Linked DNA regions of Homo sapiens. Changing the gene in region 1 together with any one later gene gives a genetic interaction. Each region holds a gene or a part of one and is shown in the gene's direction. Other genes may lie near its edges. The genes, in order: HCRT and CDC25A.

Region 1 (3,640 bases):
TAAAGAGGGCTGGGCGTGGTAGCTCACGCCTGTAATCCCAGCACTTTGGGAGGCCGAGGCGGGCAGATCACGAGGTCAGGAGATCGAGAACATCCTGGCTAACACAGTGAAACCCCGTCTCTACTAAAAATACAAAAAATTAGCTGGGCGTGGTGGCGGGCACCTGTAGTCCCAGCTGCCAGGAGGCTGAGGCAGGAGAATGGCGTGAACCCGGGAGGCGGAGCTTGCAGTGAGCCGAGATCGCGCCACTGCACTCCAGCCTGGGCGACAGAGTGAGACTGTCTCAAAAAAAAAAAAAAAAAAGAAAGAAAAGAAAAAGAAAAGAAAATGAAGAAAGAGAGAAGGCCAGGCATGGTGGCTCATGCCTGTAATCCCAGCACTTTGGGTGGCTGAGGCAGGCGGATCACCTGAGGTCAGGAGTTCCAGACCAGCCTGACCAACATGGAGAAACCCTGTCTCTACTAAAAATACAAAATTAGCCAGGCATGGTGGCGCATGCCTGTAATCCCAGCTACTCAGAAGGCAGAGGCAGGAGAATTGCTTGAACCCTGGAGGTGGAGGTTGCAGTGAGCTGAGATTGCGCCATTGCACTCCAGCCTGGGCAACAAGAGTGAAACTCCGTCTCAAAAAAAAAAAAAAGAAGAAGAAGAAGAAAGAAAGAAAGAGGGAGAGAGTGAGAGAGAGAAAGAAAGAAAGAAATGCAGGAAGGAAGGAAGAAGGAAAGAAGGAAGGAAGAAAAAAAAAGCGGGGGGGCCTGGTGCAGTGGCCCACGCCTGTAATCCCAACACTTTTGGAGACTGAGGTGGGTGGATCACTTGAGGTCAGGAGTTTGAGACCACCCTGGCTAACATGGTGAAACCCTGTCTCTATTAAAAATACAAAAATTAGCTGGTTGTGGTGGCGTGTGCCTGTAATTCTATTCAGGAGCTATTCAGGAGGTTGAGGCAGGAGAATCGCTTGAACCCAAGGCGGAGGTTGCAGTGAGCCAAGATGACCATACCACTGCACTCCAGCCTGAGCAACAAGACCAAAATTTAGTCACACACACACACACAGAAAAGAAAGAAAGAGAAATTGGGCTTGGTTTTGGCTTCTTACCTCCCACTGTCTAGGCTGAGTTTTCAAGGTTTTCCATCTCAGAGGCTAGTGGAAAGGGCAGAAGGGAGAAAAAAAGCTAGGGGGAGGGGGCAGCTAAGGAGCCTTTCCATGAAGGAAGAAGGTCCTGGAGCCTGACAGTCCCCAGGAGCAGCGACAAGAAGCAGGGGAGGGAGAGGACTGCTGCTGGCTGCTCCACCCCCCACACACATAATGTGGGGTCTCGCGTCTGCCTCTCTCCCGCCCCTAATTAGCAGCTGCCTCCCTCCATATTGTCCCAGGCCAGCGCCTCTTTTGTGCTCCCAGATTCCTGGGTGCAAGGTGGCCTCATTAGTGCCCGGAGACCGCCCCATCTCCAGGGAGCAGATAGACAGACAAGGGGGTGATCAGGGGCACAGTGATCCAACCCTGGCCTCTGAACGCCGCAGCGGCCATTCCTTGGGCCCAGCCTGGAGACGGCCCCCCTGCAGCAGGCTAATCTTAGACTTGCCTTTGTCTGGCCTGGGTGTGGACGCAAGTGCCTGTCAATTCCCCGCCACCTCAGAGCACTATAAACCCCAGACCCCTGGGAGTGGGTCACAATTGACAGCCTCAAGGTTCCTGGCTTTTTGAACCACCACAGACATCTCCTTTCCCGGCTACCCCACCCTGAGCGCCAGACACCATGAACCTTCCTTCCACAAAGGTAAAGATCCAGGGATGGAGGGGTGACTCACCATCCCAGAGAAGCAAAAAGAGTGCTTGCTCAGAGGGCTGGAAGAAAGGCCAAAGGTGTCTCCACTCTTGGTCTTTTCCTGGGTGTGCTCTGAGGCAGGAGCACCTGCCTTGGCTCACATTGGGTTGGGTGCTGTTTTGCTAAGAGCCTGTGTTTGCTGAGCTCTATGTGTCAGGTGCTCCGTTTGCACCTGTCATCTCTTGTCATCCTCCCAACAGCCTTGCAGAGTAGAAATTATTTCTAGTATACCCAGTTTACAGGTAAGGGAGCTGTGCCCTCTGAAAGGGCAGGAAACTGGTTCAAAGCAACGGAGTTCAGTCACTCCTGCAAGGGGGCAGGCAGATGAGAGAGCATTCTGGAGTCTTGCTAGTTCCTGATTTCCATGTGTTTCCCTGCTGTGGAGAGGAAGTTGGGGGGACTCAGTAGGGCCCGGGTTTTTCCCAAGTTTACAACTTCTGCTGCAGACAGACACTCCTGTTTTCAGGTGGAGTGGCAAGTGCCCTAGTGGTGGCACAGTGGCCTAAGTCTCCAGAGAAAAGGGGGATTCACTCTGCCCAGGGGGTCTCAAAAGGCTTCCTGGGGGAGATGCTCTGCTGGGTCTTGAAGGAGGAGCAGGGAAAGTAGGCCGATACCAGCAAGGGCGCAAAGCAAGGAGAACTAAGTGACAGCCAGAAAGGAGTGCAGGCTTGGAGGGGGCGCGGAGCCAGAGGGGCAGGTCCTGGGCGTGGGAGCTGGTGGCGGGCGCCGTGGGAAGACCCCCCCAGCGCCCTGTCTCCGTCTCCCTAGGTCTCCTGGGCCGCCGTGACGCTACTGCTGCTGCTGCTGCTGCTGCCGCCCGCGCTGTTGTCGTCCGGGGCGGCTGCACAGCCCCTGCCCGACTGCTGTCGTCAAAAGACTTGCTCTTGCCGCCTCTACGAGCTGCTGCACGGCGCGGGCAATCACGCGGCCGGCATCCTCACGCTGGGCAAGCGGAGGTCCGGGCCCCCGGGCCTCCAGGGTCGGCTGCAGCGCCTCCTGCAGGCCAGCGGCAACCACGCCGCGGGCATCCTGACCATGGGCCGCCGCGCAGGCGCAGAGCCAGCGCCGCGCCCCTGCCTCGGGCGCCGCTGTTCCGCCCCGGCCGCCGCCTCCGTCGCGCCCGGAGGACAGTCCGGGATCTGAGTCGTTCTTCGGGCCCTGTCCTGGCCCAGGCCTCTGCCCTCTGCCCACCCAGCGTCAGCCCCCAGAAAAAAGGCAATAAAGACGAGTCTCCATTCGTGTGACTGGTCTCTGTTCCTGTGCGGTCGCGTCCTGCCCATCCGGGGTGGCAAAGCGTCTTGCGGAGGACAGCTGGGCCTGGAAGCCCGGCTGTCGGGCACCAGCCTTAGCTTTTGCGTGGTTGAATCGGAAACACTCTTGGTTGGGGAGTTCCCAGTGCAAGGCCCTGGGGCACAGAGAGAACTGCACAGGTGCATGCTTGGATCGGGCCATGCGGGACTCCTACGATGCTCTGCTAGGCATTCTGTAGCGGGGACTTTACCCAGAGACGCGGAAGGGGAAGGAAAGCAAGAAAGGTTGCAGCGGTCGGGCGCGGTGCTCACGCCTGTAATCCCAGCACTTTGGGAGGCCAAAGCAGGAGGATCCCTTGAAGCAAGGAGTTCGAGACGAGCCTAGGCAACATAGTGAGTGAGACATCTCTCCAAAAAGTTTTTTTAATTAGCGGGGTATGGTGGGCGAGAGGATTGCTTGAGCCCAGGAGTTTGAGTTTGAGCCATAATTGGGCCACTGCACTCCAGCCTGGGCAACAGAAGGAGGCACTGTCAAAAAAAAAAAAAAAAGAAAGAAAAAGAA
Region 2 (3,815 bases), on another chromosome or scaffold:
TTACCCTTTATTCCCCCCTGTCAGAACTGGAGTTATATATAAGTGCATTCTCTAGGCCATTTTATGGTCTTTATAGAGATTTGCATCTGCTTGCCCTAACTCATTTCAGCAGATTCTCATACTGTCACAGTCCTCAATGCTGATCGGTGTTCACTGATGCAACCTTCTAATAAAAGAAACCTTGTTCTTCACAAGAGGCTATCTCTAGTACCCATTATAAGGTGAATTGCTTCTGGCAAGAGTTCTCTGTAAAGGCTACTGACTACTCAGGGCTGTGTGTGGTCATCAAATCATTTATAATCTTGGGATACATTTTCATATAATCAGTAATGGCTAAAATTTTGCTTTGTATAACAAGTATAACATAGTATGTTTTCATCATAAAAACTAGTGACCCATTCAAGGAAATGAAAGTGGATCAGAGCTCTCATTATTAATCCATGAATTTTGTCTTACAGCTTTCCTCAAATGAAAGAGATAGCAGTGAACCAGGGAATTTCATTCCTCTTTTTACACCCCAGTCACCTGTGACAGCCACTTTGTCTGATGAGGATGATGGCTTCGTGGACCTTCTCGATGGAGAGAATCTGAAGGTACCGTGTGTGTGTGTGTGTGTTCCTATTTGTTCTACTAATTAATTACCTCTGGAGAAGGCATGTGATGTGAAAAAGAACAGCAACAGCAGTTCCCCGGGGCTTGCTTAGCTGATATTTTTGTTCATTTGGTGATAATTCATTTAATAATAGGGCTACCAGCCTTATTAAATCCTTTGGATTGGGGGATGGGGGCATCAAAAGAAGACACATGATCCTTCTTACCCTGAAGGAGCTAACTAACAATCTATATGCAAGAAACATGAAATCAGAACGGTATAGGATGGTACATTAAGGATACTTCCTATCCAGGCCTATCTGGTATTGTTCAGGGAGAAACACACCTAAAGCACTTAAACAAATGTTAGTCTCTACAGGCTCTTTTTAAAATCAGTTTTTCTGTTTCTTTAGAATGAGGAGGAGACCCCCTCGTGCATGGCAAGCCTCTGGACAGCTCCTCTCGTCATGAGAACTACAAACCTTGTGAGTTGTTCTAGTGTGTCTGGAGGAAGCCCTGCGTGATTGGGGCACTGGACAGAGTAGTCCTTAGTTGAGTATAGCCAAAGATTGAAATGCATGATAGGATTTGGGGATCTGGGTTTTAGGCCTCACTTTGGCTACCTACAAATTATGACCTTTAGTCATGATATCTCTCTGCATGTCTCCTGATGTATAAGGAGTGTGGGTTAGGAGGGACCATGGTCATTCCTAGCTTTTACCATCTAGTCAGTTTGAAAAAAGCCTATCTGAAGCCTTTAGCCTGAATACTTTACTTTTTTTAGGTTATTCTCATTTATATTCCACAGAACCTAGCATAAAATTAGACAAGCAACAGTAACTCACAGGATTTTTTTTGTTTCTGTGTTTTTTGTTTTTTTTTTTGAGACGGAGTCTCGCTCTTGTTGCCCATTCTAGAGTGCAGTGGCACAATCTTGGCTCACTGCAACCTCTGCCTCCCAGGTTCAAGTGATTCTCCTGCCTCAGCCTCCCGAGTAGCTGGGATTACAGGTGCCTGCCACCACACCCAGCTAATCTTTGTATTTTCAGTAGAGACGGGGTTACATTATGTTGGCCAGGCTAGTCTCGATCTCCTGACCTCAGGTGATCTGCCCACCTCGACCTCCCAAAGTGCTGGGATTACAGGCATGAGCCACTGTGCCTGGCTGGATGTTTTTTGTTGCTGTTTTGTTTGTTTGTTTTGTTTTGTTTTGTTTTTCATTGAAAATACCTACCTGAGGCTGGGTATTTTCAGGTAGATATTTTCGATTTTAAAAATTATATATAATATATATTTTATATATATATATATATATATATATATACTCACACACACACATACACAGTATAGATTTGTGTTTCCATCAGGGATACTTTCAAACAGAAAGCATAGTATATGTAGATACAGAATCTATAGTGTATGTGTGTATATATATTCAAAATCACATATATATACACACACATACACATGCTATAGATTCGTGTTTTCATCATAGGGATACTTTCAAAGTTAGAAGCAAGAATGTGCCTATACAGATATATACACCTGTATGTTCAGAGATATACACCCTTAGGTACACATCTAAATTGATAAGTTCATATTTTTTAATTCTCAATAACCTGAACTATAATTACAGAACAAATGAGCTACAGTTTTTTTGTTTGTTTGTTTTGTTTTGTTTTTGAGACAGAGTCTCCCTCTGTTGCCCAGGCTGGGGTGCAGTGCAGTGGTGTAGTCTTGACTTGCTGCAACCTCTGCCTCCTGGGTTCAAGTGCTTCTTCTGGCTCAGCCTTCTGAGTAGCTGGGACTACAGGCTTACGCCACCACTCCCGGCTAATTTTTTTGGTATTTTTAGTAGAGACGAGGTTTCACTATGTTGGCCAGGCTGGTCTCGAACTCTTGACCTCAGGTGATCCATCCACCTGCCTCCCAAAGTGCTGGGATTACAGGCATGAGCCACCGTGCCCAGCCAAGCTACAGTTTTGAGATCACTTATGGATTATAGTACATTCATGTGCATAGCTTTTGAGAAAATATGTTAACGCAGTACAAATGTTATGAGTAAATTTACCAGGTCATTTTGATAGGCATAAAATTACATAAAATGTGAGAACACTTTGGAAGTGGCTGTTAGTTTTATAGATTTGATTTTAGAGTCATAAGCATGGGCTTGTAAGCTCTTAATAGTGGGGAAATGTCTTCCACAAATGGTTATTACAAACTAACCATTGCTGGGAGCTGTAATGGAAAATAAACTTCACACAAAAGAGGAAGAAAATCCCCGGTCTCTATGGGAGCAGATGTGGGAGTGATCCATTCTACTGGGGACTATCAGGAAGATTTCAAAGAAGTGACATTGAAATGTTAGCATCAACTTGAAAATGAATGGTTTACTGAGATGTGAAAGGACATTCTGTGCAGAAGGAAAAGCCAGGCCAAGACACATGGAGTCGAGAATAGGCTGAGATGCGTTTAGAGAGCTGACTCTTGCTACCACTGGTCAGATTGGCTTCCCTTGGGCTCTGGAAAATTTGTCTTTATTTATTTATTTATTTATTGAGACAGAGTCTTGCTCTGTCACCCAGGCTGGAGTGCAGTGGTGCAAATCTTAGCTCACTGCAACCACCACCTCCTGGTTTCAAGTGATTCTCGTGCCTCAGCCTCCTGGGTAGCTGGGATTAAAGGCACGCACCACCACACCTGGCTAATTTTTTTGTATTTTTAATAGAGATGGGGTTTCTTCATGTTGGCCAGGCTGTTATTGAACTTGTGACCTCAAGTGATCCCACAGTGTTGGGATTACAGGCGTGAGCCACCGCGCCCAGCCTGGGAAATTAGTCTTTAAAAGACCAAGTAGAAAAAAAGACTTTGAACACAATTTTGAAAGGCATTTGCTACTCTGCCCATCCCCACTCCCTCCAAATTTACCATCTTAACTATACCTTAACCAAAGATGCCCCCATTTTTATTATAACCTGGCTACTGTGCATCTTTTCTGGATTTAAGTGGGGTATTTAAACCCGTTGACCTGCTTAATTAAGCAAGGTGCAAGTAATAAAATGGAGGGGAAGATAGGCAAGCCAAAAATGTGTTCCTGACTGGAAGGTCACACTTCTCTTGACGCAGGATTATGTAGACAGTTTTTGTGAGGGCAAAGGACGTTTTGCTCATCTCTATATAATGTCAGCTGAGTATATATTCATTGAGCACTAAGTGCTCAGTGC

Evidence for each region.
Region 2: changes in HCRT (region 1) and CDC25A together harm fitness more than expected from each alone (negative genetic interaction), as found in Homo sapiens cells (one large-scale study listed by BioGRID).

The regions. Positions count from the first base shown.
Region 1 is NC_000017.11:42,183,485-42,187,124, reverse strand, and holds HCRT (hypocretin neuropeptide precursor precursor), read left to right. Parts: upstream 1-1,672; 5' UTR 1,673-1,759; coding exon 1,760-1,780; intron 1,781-2,596; coding exon 2,597-2,971; 3' UTR 2,972-3,065; downstream 3,066-3,640. UniProt on the Homo sapiens protein: Neuropeptides that play a significant role in the regulation of food intake and sleep-wakefulness, possibly by coordinating the complex behavioral and physiologic responses of these complementary homeostatic functions.
Region 2 is NC_000003.12:48,174,632-48,178,446, reverse strand, and holds part of CDC25A (M-phase inducer phosphatase 1), read left to right. Parts: intron 1-458; coding exon 459-593; intron 594-1,004; coding exon 1,005-1,076; intron 1,077-3,815. UniProt on the Homo sapiens protein: Tyrosine protein phosphatase which functions as a dosage-dependent inducer of mitotic progression. Directly dephosphorylates CDK1 and stimulates its kinase activity. Also dephosphorylates CDK2 in complex with cyclin-E, in vitro.